2 separate regions of the Homo sapiens genome follow, and region 1 is linked to region 2. Evidence: fine-mapped expression QTL. A gene starts in region 2. The other region holds a variant in brackets. All regions are shown on one strand. Distances are between the middles of the regions. Region 1 has its middle 6.0 kb from the start of PIGA. Region 2 holds the start of ASB9 (ankyrin repeat and SOCS box containing 9).

Region 1 (5,382 bases), 71 kb before region 2:
TTGATGTCAACAGGCTTCTTCCTTCTCATTTTACTGTATTTTTAATCAGGCTTCTGAAAATGCTTGCACATAACTTAGTTTTTTAAAACATACTTGGCATTCGACTCTTTGCTTTGCCTTTTCGTTCAGTTTCTACCACTCCCAACTTCTCCATGATATTTGCTTAAATTCCTTTGAGATCTGGGGCAGAAGACAATTCAAGGATACCACACAATTAAAGGAGTTACTTTGCTTATCCTCGACTGGTAAAAAGAGGGGATGTATCACTAAGGAGAAAAGACCTGAATTTAAGGACAGACTCTGCCACCTAAACACATTGTAAGCCTGAACAATGTCATCGAGCCTCAGTTTTCTCATCTGTCAAATGTAAATGATAATCTCATTTCCCTAAATCTCAGAATTGATAATTTCATTAGAGTTACGATTAGTGAAAAAAAAAAATTGAACAATACAATGTACCTTATAGCTCAAAGGAATTATTCTGAAGGAAAAAAGCAAGACTGAGCAAATCTCAGAAGCTTGGGACCTCTGAGATGTTCTTGGCTTATACTGGATCCTTGGATCTGTCCTAAAACCAACTCAAACCATGTTTTGGCTCGAAATGCCTCTGGCTTCATAATTGCCATTTAGATGGAGATTATCATAGGGAATTCTAAGCTAAGCCAAAACTCAATGTGATCTGGCTTTGTGCTTCTAAAACCCCTCCCTCTTCTTCCTCCTTAATTCCCAATTACCATCAAGATCTGCACTTGGATCCCTGACGCTGGGTCAGGATGGGTCTGGTCCTTGAGGGCGGAGGTGGGGTAACTGGCCTGTTGCTTTCTTAGAGTTCACTAGACATTGCACAGGAATATTTGTCATACTAACAGCCCTGGAACGTGAGTTGAAAATCCTCAACTTGTTGCAAAATAAAAGTATGTGAGAAACTCCAAGAGCTTTAAGCAAACACAATAAATGCCAGCAATGCATGATGTCCCTGATTACGCCACAGGGCCAGAGAATTATTAATGTGACAGCACACGTCATAAATCTATGACTAAAACAGTGTGGCAGGAGGCCCTTTAGAGATGGAAACAGATTAGGCAGCATGATGATCAGAGTTGAATGAAGATTAAAATACTGTCTGAGAGACTTGATAAAGGAAATTATACAAACATTACGTTTTAATGCCCTTAAGAAAAGCCATAGTTCAGTGAAAATTGTGAGCTTAATAGATTTGGTCAGCAAGAGCTGGACTTTGCCTAATTTAGTCTTAATCCTCAGTGTGAGAACAATGTCTTGCATATATTAGGTACTCAATAAATATTTAATAAATAATAAGTTATTACATTGATTTTGTGGCCAGCCAATGAAATTATCTCTTTAAAAAGTGAAGAGTAATTTTACATAGCTCATGTTTTTCAAACTCAGCTAAATTATATGCATGTCTGAATTATTCAGATGTTGCAACTCTAGAAAGGAATTTAATCTATTCTCAAAATATTTATGAAATGAAAAGGAGCAAAAAAATTCTGTTATTTGACCCTTATTAATGGCTTCATGAAAGAAAGTCTGCCTTTGGTAATTTTATCACTGATATTGTTCTGAAACAGTGGTCAGTAAGCTATGGCCCATAGGCCACTTTCAGCTCACTGCCTGTTGTTTTGGTAAATACTGCTTTATTGGAACACAGTTATGCTCATTTGTTGATGTATTGTCTATGGCTACTTTTATTCTACAACAGCAGAGTTGAGTAGTTGGGGACAGAGACTGTTTGGCTTGCAATGCCTAAAATATTTACTCTTTGGTCCATTACAGAAAAAGTTAGCCAACCGCTTGTGTAAAAATATTTCTTATTTTATCACGTCATCAATGAACATTAAATATAATGAATTAGACTGCTTCTTGAACCCCTATAAGAAATGGCACTTTTACCTGGCCTTGATCGATTGTTGGAATCAACTGGCCTCACCTTATTTGAGTCATTGTGTAGTGTGCAACCCAATGAAGCTAAAAAGTTACAGTGATTTAAATTTCAGGTTTCCACAATTCAAATAAAGTCATGGATACATTTATTGATGGGTTCTAGTTATGTTTGTGGTATAGCTCTAAAATGTTAGTGTTGATGGCGTGGACTCTAAATAGAGATAGTGCATAAACATATTAGTTTTTTTTT[TG/G]TTTGTTTGTTTTTTCTCTTTTTTCCAATGCCCTGGGTAAAGTAAATACTCCTAAAGAGTAAGGGGATTTTTTTTTTTTTTTTTGAGACAGAGTCTCACTCTGTCACCCAGGCTGGAGTGCAGTGGCACAATCTTGGCTCACTGCAACCTCTGCCTCCCAAGTTCAAGTGATTCTGCTGCCTCAGCCTCCTGAGTAGCTGAGATTACAGGCTACAGGCACCCGCCACCATGCCTAGCTAATTTTTGTATTTTTTAGTAGAAACGGAGTTTCACTATGTTAGCCAGGATGGTCTCGATCTCCTGACCTTGTGATCCACCCGCCTCGGCCTCCCAAAGTGCTGGGATTACAGGCGTGAGCCACCGCACCCGGACCAGGATTTTTTTTTTTTTTTTAAAGCATAAGCCCGCAAGGACAGGGTAAATGATAAAGTCAACAGAAACAACAATGTTCTGAAAGCTGAAAAGCACGTAGATAAGTTGTAAATGATGTGGCCGACCTGAAAAAAAAAATAATTTAAGCCAACAGTCTGGAAAGATGAGTTCCCAAAAGGCTCAGAAGTGGGTGTCCCAAGCACCTCTAGAAATGGGAGGGATGAGAGGGGTGCTAAAATGAGGTTCATTCCAAAAATCTGTATAAGAAACAGTTTGATCCCAAATCTTCTCCCACATTCCCTGTGGTGGAGTGACTGCTCCTTCCAACCCCAGGCAAAAGATGGGTTATTAGTCGTTTGGCTAAGGTAAAAGAGAGAGCATCCTGAATGGGGGATGCCTGACATCCATGAGGGCAGGGTGCTGAACTAACAAGAGGATTAAGTGAACGCGTACATACTAGGTGCAACCACAATTCAGGCAGTTGGATCTGTACTGGAAAAGTATTTCTCTAGGGGGAATCTTACCAGCCTAAGAGAAAAGACCTAAAAAGGACTGAAATTAGCTGGGGGAGGGACTATCAAATGGAACAGCCCAAAGAGGTCATCAAGCCCCATTCCTGGGCTCAGACCTCAGATCAGCTCCTTTGTCCCTTTCTTTTAAGTATGAGCAAGCAAGCATGAATTCCCAGACCTCCAGGGAAAATTTCTAACATGAAAGACAGAGAGTAAAACACACAGAAAAAGGCAATTTGGAGGAAACAGAAGAAAACTTCAAATCATTAATAGCCAGGGGATGAGGGAAGAAGGTGAGACAGTGCAACTAATAAATAAAATGAAGGTGTTATTAAAAAAGAAAATGTCAGAGGACATAATTGAGCCCTAGGAAACTAAAACTATTATAATAAATTGAAAATTCAATAGAACAAAAAAGGAAGACAGAGTTGAAGAAATTTCCTATGAAGTAGAATAAATAAGAAATTAAAAGTGAAAAGATAAGAAGGTCTAACATCAGAATAACTGAAGTTACAGGAAATGAGAAGAGACACAATAGGAGATGTAATCAACAATTTAAAAATTCAAGAGAATTTCGAAGCACATGAGTTGGCAAGTGAAAAGGCTCTCTGAGTCCCTAGTCCAAAAGGTGAAACTATGCCTATACCAAGGCACAAAATGATGAAATTTCAGGACACGGGAGACTAAGAGATAATGTATAAGTTTCCAGAGTAAAGAAAAATTATGATAACTTCAAACAAAGGGCCAGGAATCCGAATGAAATTAGTTTTCTCAATAGCAACACCAAAAGCTAGCAGGCTAGAGCAATGCTGCTAAACTTCTGAAGGAAAATAATTTCTGGCCTACTATTTGGCACCCAAACTATCAATAAAATTGGAGGGCTGAAAAATAAATTTTCAGACATTAAAGTTCTTAGAAAATCTCCCGATCTCCCATGCAGTCTTCTTTAGGAGGCTACTGGAGGACGGTCTTCAAAAAAGGGTGCTAAAACGAAAAGGAAGACATCACTCAAACAAATCCCAATATCCTGTGATTTTCCTTGTCTCTCTCTTTTTTTTTATTGCCACGAGAAAACATCAGGTCCTCATTGCCTCTAGTCTAGAGCTAGTTTCTTAAGCTATAATGTGCATACTATCATTCCAGATCTTGTTAAATTGCAGATTCAGATTTAGCAGGTCTGGAGAATCTGAGAGTCTGCACTTCTGACCAGCTCCCAGTTGCTGTTGCTGATCTGCAGCCCCTACTTTAAATTGCAAGGAGGCTTCTGGACTACTGGAACAGCCTAACTGGTCTCTTCTCCAGCTGTGCCACTCTTTCACCTTCCTTTTCTCCAGTTCTTGGAACAATTTTCCTAGGACAAAGCTTTGATTGTGGTTTGACATTTCATCTCATATTCTGCATCAAAAAGAAGTAACTGCCTTAGTTACTCTTTTCCACCACACTAACCTTTGTTTCAACAGTGTGTAGCCTAAAGCTTATCAATATGAGTTTTAAAAATGCTAGTAACATCTTCATGTTCAAGGTATCTAATTGATTCTTTTATATCCACTGGTGTTTGTTTAATTTCTGCATGTTTTTATTTCCAAATTCTTATTCTTTTAAAAATGTCATTTCAAAAATTATTTGAATTGCGTCTAGAGTGAATTCTTCTTCCATTGTTACATTTGTGTGTTGTCTTTCTTAATATTATATATCTTCCATTGTTTTTGAATTTTGGTTTATAAACCAATCTTGAGAGCTCTCTCTCTCTCGCTCTCACTCTCACTCTCTCCTCTCCCCGTGTGTGTGTGTGTGTATGTGTGTGTGTGTGTGTGTGTGTGTGTGTGTGTGCTTATATCCCCCAGACTAGCAGTGATAGTGGAAAATTGCAAATTATGTTGCTTGGCTCAGTTCTGTTAGCAAAGTTATATCCTCAGACTGTTGGCAAAAAATTCTTTCAATGTCTATTCACAAGTAGGGGAGATGGTTAAGCAATAAGGCTTGGTTATCTATTGCTATGTAACAAATCACCCAAAAACTTAATGTTTTGAGACAATAACGATTTATTATTTCTCATAATTCTGTGGGTTAGTTAGGATCAGCTAAGTGGTTCTTTCCACATAGTATAGGCTGAAGTCACTCCAGTGGTTATATTAAATTGGGAACTCACTTACTGCTGGAATGCCCAAGATGACCTCTCATTCTTCAGGGCTTCTCTCCATGTGGCTTGCCATTATCCAATATCTTGTCTGAGCTTCACAGCATGGTCATTGGCTTTCAAGAGGAAAGGTTCCAACAAGATGCATCCCAGTAAATAAACACTTATTAAGCATCTGTGGCATCTCATTTGGCCATTCCAGTCA
Region 2 (5,382 bases):
TCTCTTATGGCTGTTGGTAAGCCAACCAATTTCTCCATAATCAAAGCTCATACACATGTGATTCAACTTTATCCTCATACAAATCCACAAATGCATGAACTCCCCTTGTAAAGAACTGTTGTTAAACAGTTTAAAAATTCATCTCCAATCCTCCTATTCACTGGTGTTGATCAACATCATAAATAAAATGAGAAGATTAAAGGCTGATGAATTAATTCCCTCCCAGGTACTAGGGAAACAACCTGGAAATCTTCTTTATTGTCATTTTGGAACTTAATTTTGAATATGGAAAAGGCTTATCTACTTGGAATTTAATTAAAAGTAAATAAAGAAGCTGTAGTACAAAGATTTTACTGGGAAGGAAAGGAAATAGTATCCAGTTTCCCCATTGTGCCCTTCTGTTCAACTCCTCATCCAGTCTGTGTTGGGAATCAATTCCTCACTCTCTGCCAAACAAATGTATCATTCTTCAGATCTTTCCTGATGGAGTGGTAAAGAATTTGTATGCTTATGGCCTTCTCAGTTAATTCTGCAAATAGAGATAGAGGGAAGTTTAGTAGTGTTTATCCAAATTTTAAATGAGCAGCCTCTTTTCAAAAAGTGCAATTTGTATTGAGATCATTACAGATTCACATGCAGTTGTAAGAAATCACATAGAGATCTCCAGTGCACTTTGCCCAGTTTCCCTCAATGGTGACTTTTTGCAAAACTATAGTACAATATTGTAACTGGGAAATCAACATTCATACAATCTACTGATCTTATTCAATTCCCCGGTTTTACTTGTACTCATTCCTGTGTGTGTCTTCAGTTTTATACAATTTATTACATGTGCATAAGTATGCCTTTGACTTAGCATTTCCACTCTTAGGAATCTCTCCTCTAGAAATATTTGCCTATGTGCACAAAGCCACATGTACAAAAATATGAACTTTAGTCCTTTCATAGTACTAACAGAAATAATGACATTCTGCTTGCATCATTAGGAGCATAATTAAATACTTCTGGCACAATATGGAATGCTATGCAACAGTGAATAAAGACAGGAGCATACCTATAAAAGCTGATATGGAAAGCTCTCACAGACAAAATAAGTGTAAAAAGCATAGAATAATAGAATAATATAGGGGCCGGGTGCGGTGGCTCACGCCTGTAATCCTAGCACTTTGGGAGGCCAAGGAAGGGGGATCACGTGAGATCAGGAGTTTGAGGCCAGCCTGGCCAACATGGTGAAACCCTGTTTCTACTAAAAATACTAAAATTAGCTGGGCACAGTGGTGCGCTCCTGTAATCCCAGGTACTCAGGAGGCTGAGGCAGGAGAATTGCTTGAGCTCAGGAGGTGAAAGTTGCAGTGAGCCGATATGACACCATGGCACTCGAGTCCAGGTGACAAAGTGAGACCCTGTCTCAAAAAAAAAAGAATAATATAGGTACATTTATGTGGAAAATGTAAATTGATAAATGTGCATACATGTGTATGCATATAAATGCCTTTAAAAACGTGAATTACACCCCTCAAACTGTTAATAACAGCCACCAAATGTTTTAACTGAGACTCCGTAAATCTAAAACATCTAGGCCTCATCTTTGGCATTAAGACAAATCTGCAATCACTTCACAGCCAGTCTATGCTTGAGACTTAACTCAGAGCCTTCCCCCATGGGGATGAAAAATCCTCTTCTACCTGGAAGAGAGGAATGGTGGGAGTCTAGAGGTGCCTGTCAGCCTGAAGTAGCACCCAGGGGTGTGAGGCAACTGGGTTTATCTGAAAAGACATGGACACAGTACATCCAAATTTTTTTTTTTTTGAGGTGGAGTCTCGCACTGTCGCCTGGGCTAGAGTGCAGTGGCATGATCTCGGCTCACTGCAACCTCTGCCTCCTGGGTTCAAGCGATTCTCCTGCCTCAGCATCCCGAGTAGCTGGGATTACAGGCGCCTGCCACCAGGCCCAGCTAATTTTTTTGTATTTTTAGTAGAGACGGGGTTTCACTATGTTAGTCAGGCTGGTCTCAAACTCCTGACCTCGTGATCCGCCCGCCTTGGCCTCCCAAAGTGCCGGGATTACAGGCATGAGCCACCGCGCCCGGCCCCTAATGTTTTGTATAAGCAAAAACAGCAAAACGTTAACAAAATAAATTTTAGTAATTCACAATGAAAAGATAGCAGGTCTCTTCCACATCTCAGGCCACCTAGCAATCCATTTTTCCAATTGCAACCGTTCATTATTTATTTAGAAGTTAAAATGAGTGGAGGAGGGGTGAGGTAGGACATTTAGTGAAATTCTTGCAGCTGAAAGGAACAAATGGTTCTTTCCAAAGGTACATTTTTTGTAACATATAGACACATTTCCCATAAGAAACTCCCAGCACAATTGAAAGCACATGTACAGATGGCCAGGGCGTGCTGTGCATGTTACTGTGCAAGCAATTCAGCAGGGCTGCTGCAAAACCAGCTTTCTCAGCTCTGGGTGCTCGGGCTTGTCTCCATAACAAGCTACCATGTAACAAACGGATCTCAGCAGGGTGAACAACAGTTGCAGAAAGTGAGCTGTTTCCTTCACCCCCACCCTGCTCCCTTCACTCTCAAAAGTTACAAACTGAGTTTCCTTCCTGATAAACTCCAAGGCTTCCTCACTGATTGGTCTCAGTTTGGGAAAGGACGTGACATCAGCAACTTCGCAGACTTAGGGCTGGAGGGTTCTTGTGGCCTCTGGCGGGCCTCCAGCCAGTTAGGTAAAACGTGTGTGTGTGTGTGTGTGTGTGTGTGTGTACACGAGCGCATGCCTCTCTCTGATCACAGGTAGCACTCAGATTACCCTGCCTGCTCTGTGCTTTGCTGCAGACCATTTGACCAGAACGTGTGCAGCTCAGCCAGCCACAGAACTGGAATTTTTCAGGAGCAGGGGGAGCATGGAGTTTGGACTTTGCTGAGCAACTGAAGTGGAGCGCAGAGCTTGCTCGCTTAGGAGAGAGCATCATGGATGGCAAACAAGGGGGCATGGATGGGAGCAAGCCCGCGGGGCCAAGGGACTTTCCTGGCATCAGGCTTCTTTCAAACCCATTGATGGGCGGTGAGTCATAGGGGCAGTGGAATCAGCCCTGGGGAGGTTGGCTAATGTGCTTAGGAGAGGAGGGTTGGGCAGTTTCAGTGGCTCTGTGTGAGGTGTCCATGGGGCTGTTACTGGGCAGATGTCCACAGCTCACTGGTATATATTCTTTACACAGCTGTTCAAAAATGTGTATACTTCTTTCTGCAGAATCCTACAGACAAGACAAATTCAATTGTCACAAATTATTCTCCAGTGAAAATTTCAGCTCCCAGGAATCATTCTTTGTGGGTCAAATGCATTATTTATTAAATTGGAGGTTTGAAAGTTACTTATAAATAGGAAAATTTTTAATGCTAAAACTTTTTAATTTGTAAGTCTTAGGTGTTTGGCATTTAGGTGGGGCAGGGTTTATAAAGATGTTCAAACATTGAGCACTGATTGAGTCACTTTCAAAAGAGACAAAAGAGACTTTGTTTTACTTAAAACATTGGAGAATCATCTTACAGGTATTGTTCTCATCTGTCAAGTGGTGTCTGTGCTAATGTACAGAATCCCACAAATACACACTTCGGTGAGCATTCAGCAGGTGCCTGTTGGCTGAAAGGATTCTGAAAAATGGGTTTAGGCATTTGCACACAGGTTCTTATAAATAATAGTATATTGGTTAGTAATATACTGGTTAACTCTCCAGCCCCAAGTCTGCAAACTTGCTGATGTCACGTCCTTTCCCAAACTGAGACCAATCAGTGAGGAAACCTTGGAGTTTATCGGGAAGGAAACTCAAAGTTCGTAACTTTCGGAGAGCAAAGGGAGCAGCAGGGTGAGGGTGAAGGCAACAGCTCACTTTCTGCAACTGTTGTTCACCCTGTTGAGATCCTTGGGGGCTTGTGACGGAGACAAGCCCCAGCACCCAGAGCTGGGAAAGCTGGTGTTGCAGCAGCCCTGCTGAATTGCTGTATTTATTATTTATTAATTTTTTTTTCTTTTTGAGACGGAGTCTTGCTCTGTGGCCCAGGCTGGAGTGCAGTGGCGCGATCTCGACTCACTGCAACCTCCGCCTCCCGGGTTCAGGCCTGTATATATAGGCGGGGCACGGTGGTTTACGCCTGTAATCCCAGTACTTTCGGAGGCCGAGGCGGGCAGATCACGATGTCAGGATACCATCCTGGCCAACATGATGAAATTCCGTCGCTACCTAAAATACAAAAATTAGCTGGGTGTGATGGCACGTGCCTGTAATCCCAGCTACTCGGGAGGCTGAGGCAGGAGAATCACTTGAACCCGGGAGGCGGAGGTTGCAGTGCACCTAGATCTCGCCACAGCACTCCAGCCTGGCGACAGAGTGAGACTCCGTATCAAAGAAAAAAGAAAAAAATATATACCTGGTATACTGTCCACAGCACCTGTTGATCAAAGGGGCAATAAACAGGGACCCTGAAGTCAGGGTGTTTTGTTTTGTTTTGTTTTTTTGAGACGGAGTCTCATTCTGTCGCCTGGGCTGGAGTGCAATGGCGAGATCTCCGCTCACTGCAACCTCTGCCTCCCGGGTTCAAGAGATTCTCCTGCCTCAGCCTCCCGAGTAGCTGGGATTATAAGCGCCCGCCACCACACCCGGCTAATTTTTGTATTTTTAGTAGAGACGGGGTTTCACCACGTTGGCCAGGCTGGTCTAGAACTCCTGACCTCAGGTGATCTGCCCGCCTGGGCCTCCCAAAGTGCTGGGATTACAGGTGTGAGCCACCACGCCCGGCCGTCAGTCAGGGTTTATTAATCTACTATACAGGTACCAAAAAGGTAAAAATGGAAGAAATAAAACACAAAACGTCTTCCCTTTGACTGAGTAGACTAGCCTGCTCATTCATTCATTCATTTATCCAATTTCACTTATAAAATGAGCAGAGTACTCAATGGTGAGTGGGATTTAGATCCACAAAGGCAGAACTGGATTAATCAGCAGATGTATTGAGCATGAGTTTGGAGAACTAGGAAAGCAAGAGTGGCATCAAAAATCACTTTTCACAAAGAATTTCTTTTTTTTTTTTTTTTTTTGTTTTTTTTGAAGTGGAGTTTCACTCTGTCACCCAGGCTGGAATGCAGTGGAGCAATCTCAGCTCACTGCAAACTCCACCTTCCCGTGTTCAAGCGACTTTCCTGCCTCAGCCTCCTGAGTAGCTGGGATTACAGGCGTCCGCCACCACACCCAGCTGATTTTTGTATTTTTAGTAGAGACGGGGTTTCACCATGTTAGCCAGGATGGTCTCAATCTCCTGACCTCGTGATCCGCCCGCCTTGGCCTCCCAAAGTGCTGGGATTACAGGCGTGAGCCACCAC

Evidence for each region. PIP is the estimated chance that this variant, and not a neighbour inherited with it, causes the effect.
Region 1: its variant is the best candidate, but not a certain one, in a credible set for the expression of ASB9 in lung (TOPMed, PIP 0.57).

Annotation. Positions count from the first base shown.
Region 1 is chrX:15,338,789-15,344,170 of GRCh38, reverse strand. No RefSeq gene overlaps it. Among named protein-coding and RNA genes, the nearest start is that of PIGA, 6.0 kb to the right of the region's middle. The variant TG/G (reference allele first, on the strand shown) is at 2,156.
Region 2 is chrX:15,267,471-15,272,852 of GRCh38, reverse strand. It overlaps ASB9 (ankyrin repeat and SOCS box containing 9), which reads left to right and starts at 2,770. Exons shown (of 7, transcript NM_001031739.3): 1 at 2,770-3,072. The coding sequence starts at 2,979.